Linked DNA regions of Homo sapiens. The protein of the gene in region 1 purifies or fractionates together with the protein of each later gene. This does not show direct contact. Each region holds a gene or a part of one and is shown in the gene's direction. Other genes may lie near its edges.

Region 1 (5,094 bases):
ACCTTTAGCCTGGATTCCCAGTTCTCGTGTACCAGTGTCACATTTTGTAGCTGTCAGGAGCCCAAAATAGAATGAAGAGATCTGTAGGGGAGGAGCTTTCATCAGCCAAACCATTTCTTTCATAATTAATATTAAATTGATAGTAAAACTAGGTATTTCCAGCTTTTTTCATATCACGAATGTAAGACAGATACCAGTACCTCTTACGCAGAGCTCAGCTCATCCGTTCCTAAACTGGGGTACAGAAGCCCTCCTGGCCCCTGGGATGGTCCATAGATAAGTATCAGAGGAGTCCATGTACCCCAGGAAAACGTATGCACAATTTTACTAATGTATTTGCAGTGTTTTGGGGGCAGGGCCTATGGTTTTTAGCACGTAAGAGTGTGAGAGGATCCCAGGAAGATTAAGAATTGCTATAGTCAAATGCAGAAAGTACAGTTTTACAAAGGGCCATTCTGTGTCACCTAGCAAATGATCTCTTTCATCCTGCCCTCTTGCTACTTCCTAATCACGATTCATTCCATTTTTCCATCTTTTTCATTTGATATCAATCTATTAGTGAATGCTTTGCGAACTATAAAAATGAATCAGAAGTGGATCCTGCTTTTATGGCGTTTACAACCAAGTAAAGGAGATTGAGTCATGGAATGTAGAGTTAAAAGGAATTGCAAAGATCTTCTGGTCCAGCTGTCTATCTAATGCTTAAATCCGTTTTCAAACAGCTCCGTTGAGTTCTGTCCACCTGTGCTTGATGGCTTCCAGTGCTGAGGGTCACCGTCTCCCAGGATGACCTCTGTGGACAGCTCCAGCTATTCAAAAGTTCCTCTTTACACTAAATTGAGTCCACATCTGACTGCCCATGACTTCCACCAGTCAGTCCTAGATTTCCTTCCCCGGCCCCCATGGGGTCACACAGAACAAATTTGTGGCCTCTTTCGTGCCCTAGTGCTTAAACATGTAAAAGGAGACCTCATCTCCTTCCGAAAACTTCTCTGAGCCATCACCCCAAAACCTGCAACTCTTTCTCAGGCGTCAAAGTTCTGAGTCCTTTCACCCTTTAACAGGGATTAAAATGTAAAATTGTTTTATAAAATTTGGAAGCTGAGACAGGAGAATCGCTTGAACCTAGGGAGCAGAGGTTGCAGTGAGCCAGGGTTGCACCACTGCACTCCAGCCTGGGTGACAGAGGAAGACTCCATCTCTCAAAAAAAAAAAAAAATTCTAGCTGTTGTAAAGCCATTCTTATAGGTGTTGCCCATTGTGTTCTTTATGACCCTTGTAGAGAGATTCAGAAGGTCATTCTTGTATCAGATGTCCTGAGATGTTTACTGTTATTTAATAATAATGTTCAGTGGATCTGTTACTATGTAGTTTATGAGTAACAAAGACCCAAAATAACAGTGATTTGAATATGACAGAAGTTTGTCTGTCATGTGAAAGTCTAGAGGTGGGCAGCCCAGAGCTGATTCTGCTCTTTGGTGCTCTTGGTGGATTCAGACTTGAATCTTGTTGCTCTGCCGAGAAAAACCTTCATCTCCAAAGCCACGTCGTGGCCCAGGATGGCTGCTCCAATGCCAGCCATCACACCGCCTTCCAGTCTGCAGTGGAAAGGACAAAGAAAAAGATGGGCCAAGGGCCTGCTCCTGCTGTCTTTTCAAGTTCCCCAAAGTGGCTGCAGGAGACCTCTGCTTACCCCTCATTGACCAGAACTCTGTCACATGGCTGCCCCCAGCCGCAGTGCAATCTTTGTTCTGGACAGCTGTGTCCCTAGCTGAAAAGTGAGGCTTCTGTTAATTTGAAAGAAAAGGGGTACAGCCATCGGGGAACAACAAGCTGTGGCTGTGCAGGCAGCACCGAGGCGACGCTGCTCCTGCTCAGGGCCTTGTGTTCTGCTCTTGCTGGAAAAGCTTCAGTGCAGATGTATCTTGGGTGGTCAAGTCAATTCACATCATTTTTGGAAGTAGATACAATATAAATAAGTGAGGCAAAATTAGGATAATTTCATCAACTCTGAAATGCATTGGTTGCCAGATACGCTATTATTTTATGTCCCTCTAAGGTAGGTTAAAAATGCTGCCAGTTACGGCGGGGCACAGTGGCTGACGCCTGTAATCCCAGCACTTTGAGAGGCCGAGGCAGGCAGATTGCCTGTGCTCAGGAGCTCGAGACTAGCCTGGGCAACGTGGCAAAACCCCATTTCTACAAAAAAGACAAAAAAAAATTATCCAGGCTTGGTGGCGCTCACCTGCAGTCCCAGCTACTTGGGGGGCTGAGACAGGAGGACCACATGAGCCCAGGAGGTCAAGGCTGCAGCGAGCCGTGTTCATGCTGTTGCACTCCAGCCTGGGTGACCGAGTGAGACCCCGTCTCTTAAAACAAAAATGCTGCCAATTAGTCTGTGACCCGCCATCATTCGAAAGATGCATCCTGACTTGAGAGATGTTAAAATATGAAAATGTACATCTCTGAGTTGATGAAATAGGGTTCCTGAACCAAGTACTTGTCTTTCTTAGGAAATGTAGGCGTAATGTTTTGACGTATCAAAGAAGGTTCCCGAGAGGATGAGGACAGTGCTGTTGACACCCTTGCTGTCTTAGTGTTTCCCTTACAGTGCATCTTTCATTGTTATGTTGATTTTATATGATTAGTATGCTCACTATGGTGAACGAATTGGAAGATATTATTTGATTTGGGCAACTTAGTTCAAATTGAATTGTTTCCTTCAGAGGTCTTAACAGACTGAAGTAGTTAAGTCTAAATAGAGCGTTGAACGAAAGAAAGCCTGACTTGGTTTGAGATAAGATGTCTGACAGAGGAATCTTGGGAAAAGCTGTTTGGAGAGTTGTCTTGCACAATTGTCTTATGTATCGTGCTTGAGTGTTTTCATTCCTTGTGCTGACCACAACACAGAGATGGGCTTGATCTGTCGCACATTGGAGGCCTGGGATTTATCTTCTCCTTTTCAGGAAATGAATGGGGTGCTGAAAGGAATGCTCTCAGAATGGTTTTCCTCCGGGTTCCTGAACCTAGAACGGGTTACCTGGCATTCACCGTGTGAAGTGCTTCAGAAAATCAGTGAGTAAGTATTACGGTTTTCATTTTCTTTGTACATACATTTTTCATATATATTTGTGTATGTTTTATATTGGCTAAAAGCTAATCTATCTCCATTCATATGTACAGTTTATTTCAAGTCTAATAAAATCCAAACACAGTATTTGCAAATGCTGCGGCTGTCACCACACATGATACTAAGATTATGGAGGAAGACGAAAGGGCACCAAGAGAAACTGATATGTCTGTCAGTGACCTGCGTGTGAGGTCTTATTTGTGTCCTCTTATTTAAAGCAAACACACCCATTTTCGCTCGTCCCAAGACCCCGTGATCAGAGTTGTAGAAACTCACTGGACCAAGCGTTTGCATTCGTAATCAAAACAGTATTTAGCCCACCTGGTGGTTAAGATTTCTCCCTGAGTTAAAATCTCTAAACAAACTATATCATGTGTTAGTTACATCCAGGACCCGTATGACACAGGCTAGCATGTCACGGTGCCTTCACTACCTTTGCACGTAGGCATCTTCACATTACATGTTGTCCCATGGAATCCATGGTTTGAAAAGTGTCCTATTTGAAATGTAACCAATTCAATTCAAAGGGCTGACAGTGCCTGCTGCCATTTCACATGCTGAAAACAAAATAGCGGTGGGGCGAGATTGCTGGAAGACACCAGATGAGCCCCCTGATTGCAGCACTGACGGCTTCACAGAGATCCCAAGGAAAGAAAAGACAGTGTTCAACACCAAGCGTTTGATTAGGTTTCACGTTAAAATCTGCATGAATCCTTCCCCGGAGCCTCACAAACTCCTTTTAAAACTGGGGTTAAAACTGGAGCACAATTTTGTGTGTAAAATGGTCATTCACTGTAGTTCCTCTCAGTGGGTGCTGTTTCTCATGAAAATGACTTTCTTTGAATTTTCCAGAAGAGTCCATTAAAGCTCTATTTAAAGAACTTGTTTGACTTAGACGAATAGTATGAATAGGAGTCAGCAGCCGTTGCTTGTGAATTATGCATTTGTCTTGTCTCTTTATAAATTCCGCCCCAGGGCTGAGGCTGTGCATCCTGTAAAAAACTGGATGGACATGAAGCGCCGCGTTGGGCCCTACAGAAGGTGTTACTTCTTTTCTCACTGTTCGACCCCTGGGGAGCCCCTGGTCGTTTTGCACGTGGCACTGACTGGTGACATCTCCAGCAACATCCAGGTACCTGCGATGGTCAATTCGGGACAAGATGGGCACCCCATAGAGCCCCTTGTGTTTTTTGTTTTGTTTTGTTTTTACTTGATTTTATCCTCCTTTTTTTTTTTTTTAAATAAATGGTTTTGGGCTTTTTTAAATTGGTTAAATAAAATCTCCAGATTTGTAGGTGTAGAGCGTAGAAGTGTAACAGGCAGACAGTTATGGAGCAAGGCGAGCATTCATCTGGCTGTGTTGATCTTAGGTTGAGATACAGTTAAAGTCTATCACAGAACATGTTTGTGAGGCAGAAAATAATTGTGAAGGAAGAAGGGACAGATACCTGATTCATACATAGTTTACCTTTACAGCTTTTGTTAAATGCCTGTGGGGAGTTTTGAAAGATACTTGATTAGAAAATTGAAAGAGGCACTCCATCCCTTATGCTTGATGTGGGCCGAGGACACTCCTTGGCGAGTGGAGGTTATGGGACTTGTGGTTGATAGCCCCGTCTGTGGCAAGCTGCTCTGCTCCTGGATGAGTTTGGCAAGAATGTCTGAAACACTCCTGCAGGCCCGTGGGGGCAGAAGAACCAGGGAGCACATTGCAGGGTCTGGAAATAGGAGTGCTAAAGATAGGTGGCAGGGAGCATGAGACCCCTGGGGCATTGCAGGTTTGCTCAGACCAAGAGGACATGAGTGGCTGTTAGGAAGCTAAGTGGATGATGGCCCATCACAAGATGAGTGCCCTAAGCAGGTGTCCTGCTGAGAAGTTAGAGAAGCTGAGTAGGGCAAATGAGCAGACATTCCTGATCACCAAGGAGAAACACATTCCCTTACAATGTTTGTGTGTGAAAGAG
Region 2 (4,296 bases), on another chromosome or scaffold:
CAGCCCTGCTTACCAGAGGCAGCTGCTTTCGTCTCTATAGCTGATTCTTCTGATATTCACCTCCATGTTCTAAATAATATGCTTCGACTATTATTTCTTGATTTTTTTTCAATCTTACACTTTATTTTTGCCATCCTGGAAGAAGGGGATTTTTTTTACCGTCTTACACTACCCCATCAATTCTTATACCAATTACACACTCACACACATGCACTTAGCACACACATTCTCTTCCCCTTCTACCTCACGCCCTCATGCTTCACATAAAGTTACTTCATATTTTTTGTTAGCTTAATATTCAATGTTTATTTTATTGTGACAGCCTTTTCTTTATTGATGAGCTGTGGCATTATGAAGTTCCTTTTCCTGTACAACTTTGTTTCTCCTGGAGTTAATAGTTGTCTTATTTTTTCAGTTGCTTAGGTCAGTCATCCTCAAACTCTTGACAGATCCGTAAAACTCTTCCCATTATAGACAGATTTATTGGGTATTTTCTGTTTCTTGTTTCTCACAGGAATGTTTTTCCTGGAGCCCCCTGCCCTGTTCCTTTCTCAACTGGTTGTTTTCTAGCTCACTGCACAGCCGCACTCCTCCACCTTCCCTTCATTATCACCCTGAGAATTCCCTTTGCCTCCCCCGTGCTAGTTTTTGGTTTTGTGGGTCTTGCATTTTCCTCTTCCACGGTTTATACTCTGATATTAGTGAAGTTTGTCTTTTATTACCTTCTTAAAGGGTGTGAGGGAGGCAAGTTTTTGAGACTATATACCTCTGAAAATTCTACCCTCCCTTTGATAGATAGTATTGGCTAGATATCAAATTCTAGGGTGGAGATAATTTTCCTTCTTTATTTATGTCTGTTTTCCATTCATTATTCAGTCACTTGGTGGGCTCTTTCTTTCTTTCTTTTCTTTCTTTCTCTTTTTTGACAGGGCCTTGCTCAGTTGCCCTGGCTAGAGTGCAGAGGCGTAATCCCAGCTCACTGCGACCTCAAACTCCCAAGCTCAAGTGACTCTCCCACCTCAACCTCCTGAGTAACTACTGGGACTACAGGCACGCGCCACCACGCCTGGCTGGTTTTTGTGTTTTTAGTAGAAACAGTTTCACCATATTGCCCAGGCTGGTCTCAAACTCCTGGGCTCAAGCCATCCTCCCACCTTGGTCTTCCAAAGTATTGGGTTAACTGGTGTGAGCCACAGCGCCCAGCCTCAGTGGGCCTTTTCTATCTGGAATTTTATAAGCTTCAATTCTAAGGAATTTTTTTTATTATTTCTGTAATTATTTCTTCATACCCATTTTCTTAGTTTGTTCTTCCTGGGATTCCTGTTAGGTGGTTGCTAGACCTCCTGGTTTAACCTTTTTTCCTTTCTCTCTCTCTCTCTCTCTCGTCTCTTCGTTTATTAAATTTAGCTTTATGGGAGAATATTTCTGATTGGTTTTCTAACACTTCTACTAAATTTTTAATTTTCCCAAAATGTTCTTTCTTATAGCTTCCTATTCTTGTATTATGGATGCATTATTTTCTCCTAATCTCTTTAATGATCTTTATTATAACTTTTGAAGATTTTGTCTTGTTCTCTCACACTGTTTTCTTTCTCTTAGTTCCTCTTGTCTGTTTTTACTCTAGTCTGTTATGTTAGAAGCTTTTTTCAAATGTCTGAGTTTCCTTCCTGGCCTGATTTTTTAAATTAATTAATGAATTAATCAATTTGAGAGGGGATTTCACTCTGTCACCTAGGCTACAGTATAGTGGCATGATCATAGCTCACTGCAGCCTTGAACTCTTGCACTCAAGTGATCCTCTCACCTCAGCCTCTTGAGGAGCTGCGACTACAGGCCCATGCCACTATGCCCAGCTGATTTTTTTATGTGTGTGTGTGTGTGTGTGTGTGTGTGTATACACAGGTGTGTGTGTATGTGTGTATATGTATATATACATATATATACACATATATACACACATATATACATATATACACACATATATACATATATACACATATATACATATATACATATATATACATACATACACACACACACACACACACACACACACATATATTTGTACCCATATGATCTGAGACATTAAATTTTTTTTTGTAGAGACAGGGTCCCACTTTGTTGGCCCTGGCTGGTCTCGAACTCCTGGGCTCAAGCGATCCTCCTGCCTTGGCCTCCCAAAGTACTGGGATTACAGGCAAGAGCCACCGTTCCTGGCTCTGGCCTGTTTTTAAAGAATGAGGCACTAAAATACAGGCTGGAAGTTCTTTGTGATATATCAGGCTTGTCAACTGGTGGGCTTGACTATAGGATTATGAGGCAAAGACCTAGCTATTTTGTTTTGTTTTGTTTTTTTGAGATGGAGTCTTTCTTTGTTGCCCAGGCTGGAGTGCAGTGGCGCAATCTCGGCTCACTGCAACCTCCGCCTCCCAAGTTCAAGCGATTCTTGTGCCTCAGCCTCCCAAATAGCTGGAACTACAGGCATGCACCATCACACCCAGCTAATTTTTGTATTTTTAGTAGAGATGAGGTTTCACCATATTGGCCAAGCTAGTCTTGAACTCCTGACCTCAAGTAATCTGCCCGCTTCAGCCTCCCAAAGTGCTGGGATTACTGGTGTGAGCCACTGCACCTGGCCAAGGACCTAGCTGTTTTATTGGAGGATCTCAAATATCAGTGTCTGTAGAATTTCTCCAGAGATCTTCTATTCTCTGGCTAGAGGACAGGGAAGTATAATGTGTCTGTCTACCAACTTTCTAGAAACTGAACAAGGGAAAAGGGCTAGGAATTTTCTCTAACTATAAAAATAAAGGTATCCAGAATCCTCCCTATGGCCTATAAAAGCCTGCATGATCTAGTTTCGCATCAGTTTCTTTTCCCAGGAAACTTACAAGAATAAGACTGGGGGACTGAGCTACAGCTCCCAGTGCTGTATCTGGCCTTGAGGCTGCAACTGAGACTCATCTTCTCCCATCTCTGCTACTCCTCCAGATTCCCTTCACCCTCATCTATCACTTCTGCTTATCTAGACAGGGTGGCCCAGACCCTCATCTCGGAGGAGTCTGGAGGACCCTGGCTACCGCACTTGTCCACTAACCATCAAAATTGGGCAAGGGGTACTCTAAGAGACGTGTATCAGCACCCCAGCTCCTGATGACCAGGGCCGATTGCTTCTGCCAGTGTAGTGACTCATTGCCTTGTCTGCTGGACTTACGGCATGGGATTCTAAATTAATTGGGTGGCAGTCGTAACTTAAAGTTAATGGGATGCTTACTATGTCCTCTGGTAGAAGCATCCCTTCTCTGGGAACTGGGACCTCTAGACCCACAGATCTAGAGCTGTAGTGATAGGAAGCAAAGTGTTCCCAAGTGGGTCCCTGGGAATGACGATAAGCAAGGTCACTTCTCTTTCTACCCTTGGTCCCCAGGCCCATGTCTTCTGCCAGTTGGGAATATAGTACAGCGTAATGGTGATTGATTCAGGATGTGTAGCACAACTCATCCTCGCAGGACAGTGTCTTCAGGCTGTGCCACTGCTCTGAGTTGACACATAAAATTATCTGCCTTACCCTTGCATCTTTTAGGTCTACAGGTGGTGCTCATCTCTGCCATTCGTCCTGGGATATGGTTTTATTTTTTCTTTACTCTTTTGGCCAGGGGGAGAGAATGGCAGCTTCATGCCTTTAATCCCAGCACTTTGGGAGGCTGAGGTGGGTGGATCAGTTGAGGCCAGGAGTTCAAAACTAGCCTGGCCAACATGGTGAAACCCCATCTCTACTAAAAATACAAAAATTAGCCAGGCATGGTGGTGTGCGCCTGTAATCCCAGCTACTCGGGAGGCTGAGGCATGAGAATCACTTGAGCCTAGGAGATGGAGGTTGCAGCGAGCTGAGATCGCGCCACTGCACTCCAGCCTGGGCAACAGAGCGAGACTCTGTCTCAAAAATAATAATAACAAAATATTAGCTTTATTGATGAATACCTCATACACCATAAAAGCTAGTGTTTATAGTATAGTCACAGAGCTGCACAGCCATCACCACAATGTAATTTTAGAATATTTCTGTCACTCCATACCCTTTAGCCGTCCCCAGCTCTCCCCTCACCCAGGCAACCACTAATCCACTTCTGTCTCTGTAATTTTTCTGTTCTGGACAGTTCATATGCATGGAATCATATAAAGTTTTTTCCATATCTGCTTTTTTCTTAAGTTGACATATAATAATTGTATCCATGTCCGCTTTTAAAATGCAATTTGACTTTCACAGTTTAGCTGAATGCTTTCACTTTCGTTATT

Evidence for each region. The genes of interacting proteins can lie anywhere in the genome.
Region 2: the proteins of MLYCD (region 1) and TAMM41 purify together in Homo sapiens (co-immunoprecipitation; one large-scale study listed by IntAct). This does not show direct contact.

The regions. Positions count from the first base shown.
Region 1 is NC_000016.10:83,904,021-83,909,114, forward strand, and holds part of MLYCD (malonyl-CoA decarboxylase, mitochondrial), read left to right. Parts: intron 1-2,966; coding exon 2,967-3,079; intron 3,080-4,105; coding exon 4,106-4,262; intron 4,263-5,094. UniProt on the Homo sapiens protein: Catalyzes the conversion of malonyl-CoA to acetyl-CoA.
Region 2 is NC_000003.12:11,811,590-11,815,885, reverse strand, and holds part of TAMM41 (phosphatidate cytidylyltransferase, mitochondrial isoform a precursor), read left to right. Parts: intron 1-4,296. UniProt on the Homo sapiens protein: Catalyzes the conversion of phosphatidic acid (PA) to CDP-diacylglycerol (CDP-DAG), an essential intermediate in the synthesis of phosphatidylglycerol, cardiolipin and phosphatidylinositol.